Linked DNA regions of Homo sapiens: region 2 is linked to region 1. The links come from fine-mapping of genetic effects on gene expression. Tissue or cell type: thyroid. Region 1 holds a variant in brackets; the other region holds the start of a gene. All regions are shown on one strand. Distances are between the middles of the regions.

Evidence for each region. PIP is the estimated chance that this variant, and not a neighbour inherited with it, causes the effect.
Region 2: CACNA2D4 starts here. The variant in region 1 is fine-mapped to the expression of CACNA2D4 in thyroid (GTEx, PIP above 0.99). The same link has a PIP of 0.9 or more in whole blood.

Annotation. Positions count from the first base shown.
Region 1 is chr12:1,794,050-1,802,150 of GRCh38, reverse strand. It overlaps CACNA2D4 (calcium voltage-gated channel auxiliary subunit alpha2delta 4), which reads left to right. Exons shown (of 38, transcript NM_172364.5): 30 at 507-577; 31 at 1,033-1,108; 32 at 1,713-1,765; 33 at 2,099-2,151; 34 at 2,456-2,476; 35 at 4,616-4,733; 36 at 6,371-6,483; 37 at 6,770-6,852. LOC105369602 (a long non-coding RNA gene) reads right to left here and starts at 1,712. Exons shown (of 4, transcript XR_931549.3): 1 at 1,228-1,712. RefSeq lists enhancers at 4,115-5,019, 5,020-5,925, 6,037-6,604 and silencers at 4,947-5,176, 5,277-5,406, 5,747-6,076. The variant G/A (reference allele first, on the strand shown) is at 4,553.
Region 2 is chr12:1,914,736-1,922,828 of GRCh38, reverse strand. It overlaps CACNA2D4 (calcium voltage-gated channel auxiliary subunit alpha2delta 4), which reads left to right and starts at 4,177. Exons shown (of 38, transcript NM_172364.5): 1 at 4,177-4,582; 2 at 7,894-7,975. The coding sequence starts at 4,356. RefSeq lists an enhancer at 5,528-6,104.

The sequences.
Region 1 (8,101 bases):
CTCACACTGGGAAGATGAGGACACCAGCGTGCATGAGACAGGCGCTGCTTCTGACCTTGACCTGCAGAAACGTGTTTTATATCTGACCCAACACACACACACACACACACACACACACACACACACACACACACAGCATATAAAACAAATCCAGTTTCATAAAACATTCTTTAACCTTGCTGCAAGTGATTCACACAGAATTGTTCCAAGGAATTCTGTACCATTAAAAAAATCACATTGCAGCCTCTACGTTGGTCTCATAGTCAGCTAGCGGGTGACTCCTTCCAGTTGAGGAAGCACCAGGCTGGACGGTGAGGAGGGAGCCAGGACCGGACAGGGGCGTGGGTGGAAGGGTTCAGCTGGATTATGCTGAGAGGCAGTCAGAGGGAAAGCCCAACTGGCACCAAAAGCCTCGACCTGAGCTGAATAAATAGTGCTGGACTCGGAAGGCTCCATCCTGCTCCATCTCTCTCCCTCCCTCTCTCTCTGCTGTCCCTCTCTCACAGACGGGAAGATTTCTGGGGGAGGTGGATGGTGCTGTCCTGACCCAGCTGCTCAGCATGGGGGTGTTCAGCCAGTAAGTGGGGCACACTCCTCCCCAGTCCAAATAGACACAGCAAACCGAGAGCTGACGCTAAGTGGTCCTGGCGGATCTCAGGATCCTGACCTCCAAAACCCACAGTGGGTGCCCCCAAAGAGCTGCAAAAGCAACCTTTATGGAGCCAGGGCGTCAGCATGATGTGGGGAGGGCGTAAGGGCATGTGGGCATCCCTGGGAGGGGCTCCGCAGCTCAGACCCTAGAGGGAAAACCGTCCAACTCCGAGGGCAAAAGCCATTTGCTCTTCATTGTCTTTAAACCATTCCAAGTGCAGAAATGTAATTTTCAGCATGAGCTGTATTCTGATCTGCTGTCCTAGCTCAGGCGCCCTTGGGAATTGCGGTAAACGGATGCTCTGCTAGTAAAGCCTCCTGAGGCAGGGGCAGGGGGTGGGGGTGGCTTTGGACTCATCACAGCCCGCTTCTGATTTTCAGAGTGACTATGTATGACTATCAGGCCATGTGCAAACCCTCGAGTCACCACCACAGTGCAGCCCAGCCCCTGGTCAGCGTGAGTGTCACCCAGCCCTTCCCTCTGCCAGCCAGCCAGCCAGTCCTCTGCCCTGTCCTGGAATGAGGTCACTGGTCCCTGTTCTCACCCACCTTGGGTGTCTGGCCCCAGGGCCCTACCTTGACCATCTCCATCTTCTGCTCAGAGCCACTGCTCTCAGTCCCACTCCCAGGCAGGCCTCTGGGTCTGGCTTTGGGGCTTCAGAGGGACTGCTCTGGTAGTTGTGACACAACAGTGCCTCTGGCGGAGACAGAGAGAGCAGCCTGCCCCAGCCTCAGCCCCTGACACTGCCGCTTGATCACCAGGGATCCTCAGCAGTGCAGCACCAGGATGAGGGCTTGACTCGTCTCCTGGAGGGGCATGTCCAACCCCACCCGAGATGTCTGACCTGCAATAGGCATTTCCCAGCTAGCTCAGCTCTGCAGGGCAGGTGGGAGGTGGGGGGATGGGGGGTGCTGGGCTGCTGGCCTGTGCTCTGCTGCCCCTGCTCCCAGTGGCAGGGCAGCCCACTCTCTGGTCTCTCTGAGGGTGGTGCTGGTGGTGGGGGGGGGGCACCCTCACCCTTGGACCTAGGTGCGAGCGGTGTGCACTCTCTCCTTCCCAGCCAATTTCTGCCTTCTTGACGGCGACCAGGTGGCTGCTGCAGGAGCTGGTGCTGTGAGTGGGGGTAGACACGGGGCTGGTGGAGGGCTGCATGCGAGGGTGGCTTAGGAGGGTGTCCTTGAGCAGGAGGCTGCAAGGTCTCCAGGACAACCCACTTGCTACCAGACCCCGGGGAAGGAGGGCACAATCCCTGGGCATGGACGCCACCTCTTCCCTGCATGCTGCCCCTGGGAGGGACCTCATTGCTCAACCAGAGCCCTCAAGCAGGGAAGAGGGTGTCCTGGAGGAGAGGGGATGGGCCGGGGGCTGTCAGGGATACTCCAGCTCCTTGGGAACCCAAGTCGGGAGGGCTCAGAGGTCTCCGAGATTCAGTCCTGTGTCTGACAGGTTCCTGCTGGAGTGGAGTGTCTGGGGCTCCTGGTACGACAGAGGGGCCGAGGGTGAGTGCACGGAGCTGCAGGGCCATGTGCTGAAGAGCAGTGGCATTTTGGTCCACTAACGTGAGACCATTCCCTGTGGGGTGGGTGACAGTGGGGATAGGTGACCCTGAAGCATCGTTGTTCACATCTCACCCTGCGTGGCCTTCTCTCATCACATCCCTCACTCCTGGCTCTGTGTGTGACATCATCTTGGGACACCGCCACTCCATGTGCCATCATCACCACCCCATGACATCCTGCCCTCATGTGCCACCATGTTTTCCTGTGCCGTGTCCACCCTGTGCTGGGCTTATGTTCCGGCCAGCCAAAAGTGTCTTCCATCACTGTAAGTAGCCCAGCTGAGGCCATCCCTGCTGGCGGTGGGTTGGGGACGCAGCAGGAGCTACAAAGAACCCACCCTCCATGACCTGTCCCAGGAATGACCCCAAGCAGGGCTGAGCTCTCCTGGTTTAAAGTACCATTCCTGGGGGTTGGGGGACTGGGGAGTCTAGCCCAGTTCTCATCCCACATGAGGACGGTCAGGCCCCAGGGAAAATGAGAAACTCCAGCCTCCCCTTGGGTGAGAACACGTAAGATTCCAAGAGGAAGCCGGTGGTGTGGCCGGGTGGCCATGAGCCAGTATGAGTGAGCAACCTCCAGCCCACCCCTTGGAGAAGCAAACAGCGGCACCCCAGCCCTCAGCGGGACTCCGGGTTCCAGGGGCCCCAGGAAGCTCTCAGGATGATTCCCCTGCGGGACCCTGTGTCTGAGGACAGAGTCCCCCAGAGGCAGCAACCATGAGAGGCCCCAACACAAAGCCCGGTGGCTGTGGCCACACGTGCAGGGCGGCAATGAGCCTGGCCTTTCAAAGCACTCACTGCCCGGGCGCCTGGGCCCTCCATGACTGCAGGAGGCCATCTTGCCTCAGCGGGCTCTGCTCAGTTCCTCCGTGTTCCTAGAACCTTTGCCATGGGGTTCCAGAACTTCCCACCACCTGGGCTGTCCCCAGCTTATCCCATCTCTTCATCTCCACTGTGGTCCTCTCTCTGGCTTGCTCTTCGTTCTCTTCTGCTGGCCTTGGCTTGGGGCTTCCTCTGCCCCTGGGCTCAGGGCAGTTCGGGCTGTGTCTCCAGACTCCTTCTGGACTCACATCCGCGATCGGGTGGGGCTGCTCTGGGGTGTTCACAGTCACTAGGTGTCAGTGACAGGACACTGTCCCCTCTGTCTCTGTCAGCAGCTGCATCTTGCAAAAGTTGAAGATGATCCCCCTCAATCTGCCTGCTCAGAATTTCTCTTCTCTGGGGTACCTGTCCCCTGGAGCTCCTCCCCCTGGTCTGGCCTACACAGATGTCAGTGTCCCCAGTGAAGGCGCACTGGACTTGGAGTCCCAGGCCGGGGCGTAGGTGCTGCAGCCCCTTCCACTGCGTGACCCTGGGGACGCCACTCAACCCTGCCATTGTCAGGCAGGCTTCTGTGCCCAGCCCTGGGGACAAAACTCACAGCCCTGGCCGCTGTGGGCTTGCTCCTCTCGGTGAGAGTTTTCTGCACGCCAGCTAGTGTCCCCTCTGGGTTTCCAGCTCTGGCTGGGAGCTTCTGGATTTGGAAGCTGGGGAGACCCATGCTCTCCTGTAGGACTCTGCATGAGCCTGGGAAGGTAGCTCACACCTGTGCTCCCTGCCTCTAGGTCTATCCCTGGGGGCCACAGCCAGGCCCTGAGAACAGAAGGGCCATGCAGACAGCCTGTGTGGCAGGGCCCTGCTCTGCCATGTGCCCACCTCAGGAGGCTCCGGGAGGGAACGGACTCGGGTCCTGCAGAGCGGGGCTGAGGCACTCGCCTCCACCTTTGGTTGAGTCCACTGTCCTTGTCCCAGGGAGCTAAGGCAAATCGCGCAGCCCCCGAGGAGTCCCGCACCGGGTGGCTGTGGCTTCTGGGCTTCCGCAGCCCCAGGCCTGGAGCCCACCTGCCCGGCTGCCCCCACCGCAGGCGCTCAGGCTCAATGGGTGGAGTGTGGGCCTGGCTGTGCGGGAGAGCAGGGCAGGATTGCCCAGGAACTGCACTGCGTCTGTCCACAGTGAAGGGAGGGGTGGTGGGCCTAAGTACCCCCAAGCCACCCCTTGGTGCCCCTACTGCCTCTGCTCCCCGCTCAGACCCTCCCCCGGGATCTGAGTGCTGGAAGGGGCCCTGGAGATGGTGCACTGCCCCCAGCTCAGTGAGGGCCAGGCTCCCCAGAGGAAGCGCTTTCCCTCCACCGAGGCTCAGGGCCCCTGCGGCGCTCCCCGTGCCAAGCCACCCTCTCCAGAGACTCCGGGTGTCTTCCCTCCCCTCACCCCCCGCCCGGCTCCTCCCACGCGTGTCCTGAGAACTGCCTGAGGAGGGACCCTCTGCAAATGCACTGGGGTGAACTCTGGCCCTGGGAGTGCC[G/A]AGGCGAGGTCACCGCAGGCCAGAGGCCCCTTCGGTGGCGTGATGTCCTTTCTCCGCCCGCAGCCCACAAACACAAGAAGCAGGACCCGCTGCAGCCCTGCGACACGGAGTACCCCGTGTTCGTGTACCAGCCGGCCATCCGGGAGGCCAACGGGATCGTGGAGTGCGGGCCCTGCCAGAAGTAAGACCGCAGGGCGGCGCCGCCCGTCCCGCCACACTCCTCCCGCCCTCGGCAAGGCGGAAGTGCGGGCAGGGCCCCGGAACCCCCGGGAAACGGCTCCACAGCCGGGAGGAGGGGATGCGTCTAAGTGCAGAGCCCACGCTCCCGGGGTCTTCCCCCGCCGTCCTCAGTGGAGGAGACACGCAGGAGGCGGACGGTCTGAGGCGGGCAGGACGGCTGGGGACCGGGACAGCCGGGATGGGGAGAGGTGGTCCCGAGGCCTGACCCTGTGTGTCGAGCCCACCCCGCCGAGGCCGCAGCCGTGACCCCACGGCGTCTCTGGGCGAGTGGGCCCTTCGGCGGGTCTCCCCCAGCCCTGCTCAGGCGGTGCCCAGGGCGGTGCCAGTGCCCGCGCCTGAGCTGCGTGGGGAGAACTTGGAAGGCAGAGGGAGTGTGAGAAGAGAAGGCCGGAAGTGTGCGATGTCCTCGGGTCGCTGGGAGCCCCGCGGGCAGCCTCTGTCAGGCTTCCTGCTGTGTGGAAGCCGCTAGTTATAACCCGCCCTGGCCCCGGGGAGGCAGGGAGGCCGCGCGGAAGGGTCTCTCCTGCTGACCCCCCGCACCCAAGCCCGGGAGGACCCCCACGCTGGGAATGCGGCGGCCTCCTCGAGGGTCGCCTCAGCCAGACGTGCCGCTCGCCAGGCGGTCCCTAGACCCCCGGGCCCGTGGCACACCATTTAACAGTGCGGCACCTGCGGCGCTGGCATCGGGGCTCCCTTCTCCCCCACTCCCTGCGCGTCGTGCTGCGCGGGTTTCACCCCGGGTTCTGTGCAGCGTTGAGGGCTGGGGTTAGCGTTCCCTGTGCACTTGTCGCAAAGGCTCGGTGCGAGGATAGAGCCAGCGGGCTCCGGAGTGAAGCGAGGGCTTCAGAGTAGACACTCCTGAATTGAAAACTGGCTCTGCGCTCCCCCGCTTATGACCGTGGGCAAGTGACTTCGCCTCCTCTAGTCTCCATTCTCTCATCTGCAAAATGGGCACAACACCAGCCTCATACAGAGCCGTGAAGGCTGAGAGTATACACGGCTGTGGTGTGCACGTTGGGTGTGTGAGACCGCCCATCCCAGGGGAGGCGCTCGGTAGGCGGCCGCTGGGACTGCTGGGAAGGCCGTGGGCCTGGCGGGCGGGCTCCGCCCCACTCCGCGCCACTCCTCGCAGGGCGGCCTCGCCGAGCGCGGGGCCACTGCGCCACCTGGTGGCCAAGCTCCAGCGCTGCCGCTTCGCCCGGGCCTGCCCCCGCCACCCTCACCCAGAGCAAGTGTTGCCTCGCCCGCCCATTTGCTCCGGACGGTCTTGATTTACGCCTGTCGTCCCTGCATATATTAATAGCAACTCTGCACTCTCCAAAGCGGCCCAGTTTGGACTTCCTCACTGTCTCCAGTCTGCTAGGAAAGGAAATGCAGCAGCAAAGGCTTGTGAGCAAAGCCAGTAGGACTGAGCCATCTGCCAGGCCCGTTCCCTTAGCTGCCCCGACCCGCCCTGCCTCATGGTTCCGGGCTTCCCTGCCACCCTAACTCCACACTAAAGTCTCCAGAAGTTCCTTCCCTAGAAGCCCTTCTCGTGGTCGCCACGGAGCCATCCTCGACTCCCTTTCTTTGCTGCAGGGTATTTGTGGTGCAGCAGATTCCCAACAGTAACCTCCTCCTCCTGGTGACAGACCCCACCTGTGACTGCAGCATCTTCCCACCAGTGCTGCAGGAGGCGACAGAAGTCAAATATATCCTGCAATGCTCGGGGATGTGTGCGGTGGGGGCGGGGGCTGTAGGAGGTGTCTGTAGGGCTCAGATTTTGAGCAGCGGGGCCAGCCTCCTTCACCGCCCGTGTCCTCCACAGGGCTCCGTTATTTGTTCTCTAACCCTTCCCTGGGCCCCGGTGCTGCCTCCTGACCCTAAAGCTGCTTGCAGGGCAACTGGTGGCACCAGAGCAGGTTCTTCCAGACCTTTTTCCAGTCTGCAGAATGGGCTCCGGTCCTGAGATATTGACCTTAACAGTGGCTTCTGCACATAATGCCTCTGTCAAATGTGACCGGATGCGCTCCCAGAAGCTCCGCCGGCGACCAGACTCCTGCCACGCCTTCCATCCAGAGGTGCGGGTTGAGGCGGATCGAGGGTGGGCTGGATTTTCATCCCCAAACCCTCTGTGCCTGGGTCTGTGCCCCTGCAGACAGGAGCATATAGGGATGCCAATGAACACACCTGTGCCTGTGCTTCTCGGGGGAAACATTCGCGTTTATGCCCTGTGACACTGTGATATAATAAGAAACAGATCTTTATTTAGTCTTTGTCCTGATTCCTGGCAAGCTCCTAAAACGCTTGTTATTTCCTGATTAGGGTGATAGGTGCATCTTTTGTTATAGTGTTTGGTCTTAGTCCCTGGTTCCTTCACAGGTGCCTCTAAGACCCTTGGAATGATAGAGGTATCTTTGTATGCTAATTAGATGACTGGTGGCTGGGGGCCCTAGACAGGATGAGAGCTGGCCACAGGAAACACCAAGTTAGGATTAGAGGGTTGGGACTTTTGGCTCCAAGCCCCTGGCTTCTGGGAAAGGAAGGGGGCTGGAGACTGAGTTGATCACCAGTGGCCAAAGATTTAATCAATGATCATAATGAGGCCTCCATAAAATCCCCGAGCCACTGTGTTTGGAGAGTGTCCGAATTGGTGAAAGGGTGTGGGAGCTCTGCGTACCCCGTGCCTTGGCCTACGTGTCTCTTCCACTCAGCCGCCTGACCTGCGTCCTTTATAATAAACGGGTCATGGTGAGGGAAGCACCTTCCTGAGTTGAGTGAGCCACGCTAACAACTCACGGAGCCTGAGACAGGCTCATGGGAACCCTAGATTTACAGCCAGTCTGTCAGAAGGACAGGAGACCTGGGGCTTGCGATTGGCATCTGAAGTGACGGCCACCTTGTGGGACCGAGCCCTGTAACTTGCGAGCTCTAATGCTAACTCTCAATAGTGTCAGACTTGAATTGAGTTTCAGGACAGACACCCAGTTGGTGTCCAGAGAGTGGGGTGGGAAAAACCCTTCACATTTGTTGAAGTGCTGGTGTGAAAGCACAGCAGAGCCCCTGTGTCATTAAAATACGAAGTCAACCAGGATCCCAAGGTGCTTTAACGAAGAGCCACGCTTCCTAGGGCTTGGGCCCTAGGTGAATTAGAATGCAGTTTTCCCATCTTGTCCTCATTCCCGCTACACTTAGTTCCGAATGATCGAGCAATGTGAGGGGGCCGTCACGTGGATAATAGTCATAGTGGCTGGTACGGATCCAGAACCCAGACCCAGGTGTCAGGCCCTGAGCCGGGTGCTTCATACAGTCTGGTCTGCTGGGACCAGA
Region 2 (8,093 bases), 120 kb before region 1:
GTAATTCACATGCCGTAAAATTCTCCATGTTAAAGTTTGCAGCTCGGTGCTTGACAGGCTATTCACAAAGCCGTGCGTCACTGCCCACCACTCTCTCATTCAAGGACACTTTCATCATAAAAGGTGGCGTTGAAGACCTTGAGCCGGACGCCTCCTGCTGGCCCCTCCGAGTGCTCTCCCTGCCCTGGGGGGCTGTCCTGGGGGGGGAGCGAGGGCACGCGGATAAGTCCCTAAGGTTCCCCGGGTGGAGGCACCAGCAGGAGAGCGGGGGAGGCAGAGGGTGAGTGGGTGTCCACGGCCCCAGCCCTCCCACGGGACTGCTGTGGCTGGCCGCATCCCTTGCCTGGCGGCCACAGTCCCCCCCATACAGCCTGTTCTCTCCAGGGTACAGTGGCTTTCCCGTCCCCGTCCCCGTCCCCCTCCCCGAGGCTTAGGGGCTAGCTCCCGCGGTTTCCAGCCCTGGCCACTGCAGTGTCCCTGCAGGACTCCGTCCACACCTCTGTAAATAGCCTCTCTGTTAAACTCGTCTCAAGCTGCCCGATCCAGGGGTACCAGCTCTTCCTGCAGGAAACCCGACGCCAGACACTGATGGAAATGAGAGGGCCGGCCACGCAGGGGGAAGCAGGCAGACACAGCCGCGGCGCGGACTGCAAGCTCGGGGGTCAGCCGCACCGATGGGGGGCGCGCCTGAGGCACCCAAGGAGCAGCGGGAGCCCGCGCCCAGAGAGGCGCGGTCAGGAGAAGCCAGCTCCAGCCAGGTGGGGCCTCGTGGCTGTGAATTTGGTGGCATTCATCAGCTTCTTAAAATTTGTAATTTGGAATGATTTTTAAAATCAAGCCAGCTCCAGCCAGGTGGGGCCTCGTGGCTGTGAATTTGGTGGCATTCATCAGCTTCTTAAAATTTGTAATTTGGAATGATTTTTAAAATCAAGCCAGCTCCAGCCAGGTGGGGCCTCGTGGCTGTGAATTTGGTGGCATTCATCAGCTTCTTAAAATTTGTAATTTGGAATGATTTTTAAAATCAAGCCAGCTCCAGCCAGGTGGGGCCTCGTGGCTGTGAATTTGGTGGCATTCATCAGCTTCTTAAAATTTGTAATTTGGAATGATTTTTAAAATCAAGCCAGCTCCAGCCAGGTGGGGCCTCGTGGCTGTGAATTTGGTGGCATTCATCAGCTTCTTAAAATTTGTAATTTGGAATGATTTTTAAAATCAAGCCAGCTCCAGCCAGGTGGGGCCTCGTGGCTGTGAATTTGGTGGCATTCATCAGCTTCTTAAAATTTGTAATTTGGAATGATTTTTAAAATCAAGCCAGCTCCAGCCAGGTAGGGCCTCGTGGCTGTGGTCAAAACTGTGGCTTTTCCTCTAAGGGAGATGGGCAGCCCTGGGGGCTTCGGAGCAGAGGGAGGGAGCCACAGGGTCTGACTTACGTTTGAAAAGAGCCTTCGGTTGCTGCATTAAGAATAGATGATGAGAGGCAGGGTGGGGAGGCCCGGTACCAGACAGGGGCCCGCAGGAAACAGGTGGGAAAGCTGGTTTCCAAAGGACTCCTTGGAAAGGGGTGGATGTAGGGGACGCAGGATGCAGCCCAGCTGTACCCCCTCCTCCACCAGTCAGGGAAGGAAGCCGTCGCTGGAGCCTGAAGGGGAAGTGGGCAGAGGCAGCCGCCTGGAGGCCGGCGGTGGCCTTGGGCTGAGAAGGCCTGGTTTTGAGGCTTCCTAAGTATGTCTAAGGGGCGCACAGGACACAGGCCGCCAGTGTGTCTGCGAAGGACGGAGCTTTCCAAGCCGCTGTCACGCTTGACACAGTAGAGGGAGGCGAAGGCTTTCCGGACAGGGTGCTGGAACCCCGTGGGGGCAGTGGGAGCTTGTATAATGTGGGAGTGGTTACCCATAAAAGAAAAATAATGCAAATCCCAGGTACAAACATAAAAATAAAAGTGAATATTTATTATCGAAAGCAGGATCTCGAGAGATATTTGCACACCCGTGTTGACGGCAGCATATTTCACAGTAGCCAAAAGGAGGACACCACCCCAGGGTCCATCGATAGAGGAACGGATGCACAAAATGAGGTCTATCCACACAATGAAATATTAACCCATCATTGGTCACCCCCAAAAAGTAAGGAAATTCTGACACACGCGGCACCGTGGGTGAACCTTACCGACATTGTGCTAAGTGAAATGAGCCAGTCATGGAAGGACAACTATGTGATGACTTCCCTTCTGTGAGGTCCCTAGAACCGTCAACATCAGAGATACAGAAAGGAGAGTGGTGGCCGCCAGCGGCTGGGGGAGGAGGGAACGGGAGCTAGTGTTTAATGGGTTCAGAGTTTCAGTTTTACAAGATGAACGAATTATAGAGATAGATGGCGGCGAAGGTGGAGCAACATGATTAATGTATTTAATTACACTAAACCGTACACTTAAAAAGATGATTAAGATGGCACATTTTATGCCACAATAAATATTGGGCCACAATAAAAAAGTTGAAAAAAGGTGAATATTTATTCAGTTTTAAAAATCATTCCAAATTACAAATTTTAAGAAGCTGGTGAATTCCACCAAATTCACAAAACCTAGAGAAGTTACATTCTTTTTATGTATTGACTGCCCAGTGTGCCTCTGTAGTATTTTTTCTAAATGTGTTTGATTTGTAATCCTCAAAACATGTACAAAATTTATGTGAAATTAAGGCATTCATAGGAATCATTTAGATGCCTTTAAAAAATACATTGTATTCAGCCACAAAACTGTGCCACCAGATTACTCTGATACTACAGCACTGACTTATTGATGAATCTGTGTAGGAGTTTTGTCATCAGAACACTTGCTTCTGCAAGCATTTCTCTGCGTTGGTGGCAATTTTGCTTACCATTTTGCTGGAACCACCAGATTTTGTGAAGACACAGTGCACCAGTTACACTAAGAAAATAATCTGATACGGGGACTGCATAAAATCTATGACTTCACCCCCGGAGAACCCATGTGGTACTACTACTGGTTTGGGCTCACAACACAAGAATTTTGATCAATTCTAATTTGTGTAACTCTCATCAGAACACAAAGCAATGTACGGTGTAATTATATTCTTTCAATATCCACTATTTTCCTAACAGGAGAGAACTTCTGTCCTGGCCAGGCCTTGGTGAGAACCAAATCCTCCACCAACGATGTTACCTGTGTGGCTTTTTGTAGATTTTCTGCAGATGAGCTCCTGACTGTTACTTTGCCCTCCCCACCACACATGGCCAGGGTGGGTGTGACAGCGTGCGCTCACATCACGGCCCAGCCTCTCTTGCTGCATCTGCTGGTGGGATGTCCTGTGGGATGAGTGTTCCTGGAAGCCCTGCCTACACTCAGCTGGAGGTAACTTCTCTGTACAAAGAAGTCACTGTGAACCATGTCAGCATATCCCACTAAGCCCAGATTAAGTGTTTCCCCAGCTCACTTTCCTCTTAACTGGATCCCCCAAGTGCCCTCAGCCACCCAAACATCATCCAACTAAGAGTCCCTCAGACGGAAGAGAAGTTGGGATGGAAAGAGACAGACAGTCTCAACCGGTTATGGTTAAACTATCTCAACTTTTGCATATTTTACAAAAACATTTGGCCACAGGAACACATTGCTAGGGCCTCTCCGGGAAAGGGGGGAGTCTGTGGATTCAGGGGTCCTGAAGCTTCATCAGTTGCACAGCAAATGCGTCCCCAGCCCCGCCCACGAGCAGCTGAGATGTGGAGGCGTGGGTCCACTGACTTCACCTATGACCTATGACCTGTCCCAAAGGCACCAGGCCTGGAAACACCAGCCAGAGTCCCAGCTCTGCCCCTGGGACTCCCCGGGCCTCAAGAGCCTCTGCCAAGCAGGGATGAGGACACACCCCCACCTCAGGGTCAACAAGAGATTTGTGGGTCAATCAGAGTACTGTGCAAACTCAGCTGCTGTCCTCTGGCCATAGTCACAGCAAGCCCTTCCTGGGTCCAGAAGGTGGTTCCACAGGAACGGGGCTGCCTCTTTAAAGCAGAGGGGTGCACTATAGCCCTGAGGGAACCAGCTGCAGTTGTGGTAATCTTGGGAGGCAGCTCCCCACCCCCTGCCACCCCCTCCCTGCTGTCAGGAGAGGATTAGAGGAGAGGCCAGCGGATTAAAGGGTTTCATGTTGCCACAGCCTCTCCCCCAGTCCCTGTCTCCGAGGCCTGCTTGCTAGGTGGGGCGACTCTTCTGTGAGCTGCAGCTGTGGGGCAGAGAGAAGCCCTCCCCACCCAGGACTGAGAGGCTGGAGACCCCAGGCTCGCCAAGGCACGGAAGACAAAGGCCTGGGGCGTCCTGGGGTCTGGGAGGAAGGCAGACAGAGCTCATGGTCTGTGGCTGCTCTGCCCTCCTTCCCCTCCCCAACCCCAGGCCCACCATGCCTGCAACTCCCAACTTCCTCGCAAACCCCAGCTCCAGCAGCCGCTGGATTCCCCTCCAGCCAATGCCCGTGGCCTGGGCCTTTGTGCAGAAGACCTCGGCCCTCCTGTGGCTGCTGCTTCTAGGCACCTCCCTGTCCCCTGCGTGGGGACAGGCCAAGATTCCTCTGGAAACGTAAGCATCACGTTCAACCCCACCCCAAAAACCCGGTCACCCTTTCCCACTTTCTTCCCGGGCTGGGCCTCCATCCTCTGCCCACTCCTCCCGCCCCTGCCCTCCCTCTGGGCTTTTCCCCAGTGGCTGCGACTGACCACTCTCTTGCTGTAAAGCCCTTTGCTTCTCCGGCCTCCTCTTTCTCCTCCCAAAAGCTCTGTGAGTTCTGGAGTCCCACCTGCCTCTCCCCAGGAGCCGGATGGCTTTAGGAAGAACTGATCATCAGGGCTGCTGTCTTCCTGGCCTGACAAGCAGCTTCTGGGACACCTGAAGGGCGGGTGCTCCTTCAGGATAATCGCTGAGATGAGGCAGCCTGGAGGAGCCGGGTTATCTCAGCATCGCAGCTCCCCGAAGCATTTGGCAGGAAATGCGTATTTTGACATTCCAAAAAGGGGAAGCAGTTCTGAACCCACAGAACGTCTCATGCGCACAGGAGGTGGCTTGTCCAGGAACTGGGGAAAAAAATGGATTTTGGTGGCCGCAGTCTTCCCTTTCTACACCTTTCTGCCTCCTTCCAACCTTGATTCTCTAGCCGGCCATTAAGACCGGCTCCAGGAAAGAACCCGGTATCAGTCATGTGCACCTTGGTGTACATGTAAATTACTGTGCAACCTCTCTGGGGTGTCTGTGTTTTAGGCCCTAGCTCAGGTGGTCCTAGGAAGGAAATTTCCAATACATGTGGGTAGCAGAGCCTTCTAGACTGTAGGTGCTACAGACCCCATCCTGTTTACTCCAGCCGCTTGAGCCCAGCACCATAGCCAGGCCACCAACAGAGCCACCTGCCAACTGCATGTCTTAGCAGGAGTGGGGACAGGGAGCCTAAATGACACACCGTGCCTGTGCTTAGCCTTTGCTGACCAGTGGATTAGGCAGCATCGTTTCCCATCGAGCCGCATAGCTCTCCTTGTTCCCTGCCTGGCACGGAGCTGGGCGCTTCACAAATGACACCGTTAGTTTGCAGAGCCATTCAGTGGGGGCTTATTTTTATCCCTATTTTGCAGCTGAGGAAACAGAGGCCCCGAGAGGTCAGGTGACTTCCCCAAGTTCACAAGGCCAGGAAGTGAAGGTGCTGGGATTTGAACTCCTGTCAGCCTGGACTGCACTTTCACCATTACACCCGCCGCCAGCCCGTAACGCTATCTGTTGCTGCAGGAGATGTTCAGAACAATTTTCATCCCCAGAACACACACCAGCTGATAGGAGAGGGCCAACTCCAGGAGTGGGCTGAGGGCCAAGTCGGGGTGGCTGGAATCCAGGCCTTCAGGGAGGGGGGCCCCAGCGGCCATCTATGCAGAAGCCCTGGGTGCTGCCAGAGACAACAGCCTGCACACAGCCTCATCTGCCTGCCCAGGACTTGGCCCCACCTGTCCTCACTCCCGCCGAACCTCTCTTCTCAGTCTTTCCCTCCAGCCGGGCTTCCACCTCCTCCCAAGTCTGTTTCCACAGGGTTCCCAAAGCCCTCCTCATGCCCAATCCAGGAGACATTCCTGGCCTTGTCACCCCAGACCCTGTTGCTTGGGACACACAAGCCCCCGTCTTCTTTTATCCCAGTCCTTGACTTCCGTGGCACTGCGCTCCGCTGGGCCTGCATGGGCACGGCTTATCTCTGCTGTCCTCAAGTGCTCCTCCTCCTCTGCCTGCCCCGGAGGTGGGGGGTGCTCCCCAGCAGCTGTCGACGCTCAGAGATCTCACGCTGCACACTCTCCTTGAGAGAGCCCTCCTGCCCTCAGAATTTCAATCCCTACCTTTGCATCAATGACTCCCAGCCCTGTCTCTACCTACTAGACACATACCCAGTGCTTATGGGCAGCTTTTCCTAAACATCATGTGAGGTTTTAAATTCAGATTTGTGTCTTTCAAGGTAAAACACAATTGGTGCCTTCTAGAGTTGTGCAGTGCACAACCTTCCCAATGGTACTTGGTAGCTCTACAACGGGAACCTCACATTCAGCAGAGCCCAAGGTACACACATCACTTTTCACCCTCCTCAGCTCATTCCCCCTGCCCTTCCTGATAGTCTTAATTGTATTCAGTAACAACACCATCAGGTCAACAACCCACACTGGAAGCCCGGAAGTCACGTTTTACTCCTCCAAGCTCTTCTGTACTCCCGACCTAGAATCCTCTCCCAGACCCCTTTGCAGGCTAACCTCTACCAAACTTCTAACCTGGAGCTCAGATCTCCCTCCCCAGGGAAGCCTTCCCTTATACCACTACCCCTCCCCAACCTTCATGGGCACCTTCAAACATGTACTATGCTACCCGCATGACAAAGCTGTCCCTGCAAGGGTGGGGACTGTGGGGTGGCTCCAGGCTGCCACATGGTAGGACCTTGATAAACATTGGTTGAGTGATGACTGCTGATCTTGAAAGGATCGCACAGGCAAACCACTTCCGCTCCATCTGGAGAGGCTCAGCCCCAGCCCTGTGTACCTGCCCCCAGGACCCCACCAGCCTGGCCAAGATGGTGGGATTGTGGTGCATTTCTGGGGCATGGGCGAGAGGTCGGGGCTCCCCACTAGGCTGCCTACACAGAGGGTGAGGTGTGGCCTCCTTATGCCCTCCTGGCCTGCCCTGCCCTCAGGCTCAGCAGTGGCAGCTCAGAGCCTTTTCCTGCTGTGCCCTTGCCTCACGCGTTCTCTGAGGTTTCAACAGAGGGTTCGGCAGCCCCCAGTGGCTTTGAGTGGAGTGCACTGGAGGGAACGATTTATTGAGAGGCCACAGCTGTGGCCAGGCAGGTTGTCCTTTGTCCTCAGGGTCCTCCGGCCCTGGCCTGAGGCTGTCCACTGCCTCTCCCCTCCTTCTCTCCTCTCAGTCTGCCACTCTCCAACCAGAGGCCCTGGAAGCTTGGGGTCAAGCTCAGTCCTGGGCTCGTCAGCCCGGCCCCACAACCCTCAGCAGGAGAACCTGCCGAGGACATTCAGCACACAGCAGTGCAGCCGCTGGGTCCTGAGGGTTCTCCGCGTCTCCTGCCCAGGCCATGGCTGTAGCTTTAGGGACAAGGAGGAGGGACAGGTGCTCTTTTGTGTGTTTCTGGGCATATGTCACGTGTGTGTATGCATATGCATGTGTGTGGGGGGTATGTATGTGTGTGTACGTGTGTGTGCATTTCTTATGCATTATGTGTCTGTGTGTTGGAGTATGCATGCATCAGCAGGTGTCTGTGTGTAGACACTGGCTTTCTATGTGTGTGAACCCATATGTCTACGCGTGTGTTTCTGTATTTGTGCGTGTACGTGTGTGTATACGCGTGTCCTTTCATTGCCTGGCAGAGTGAAGCTATGGGCTGACACCTTCGGCGGGGACCTGTATAACACTGTGACCAAATACTCAGGCTCTCTCTTGCTGCAGAAGGTCAGTCACCCCCTTCCAGAGAGCCCACCGGGTGGCAGAGGGCAGTCAGCCATCGAAGCCCCCAAATGCCGGTGCTGTGAGGGGCCTTGGGCATCCCATCAAATCGGTTTATTTCAGA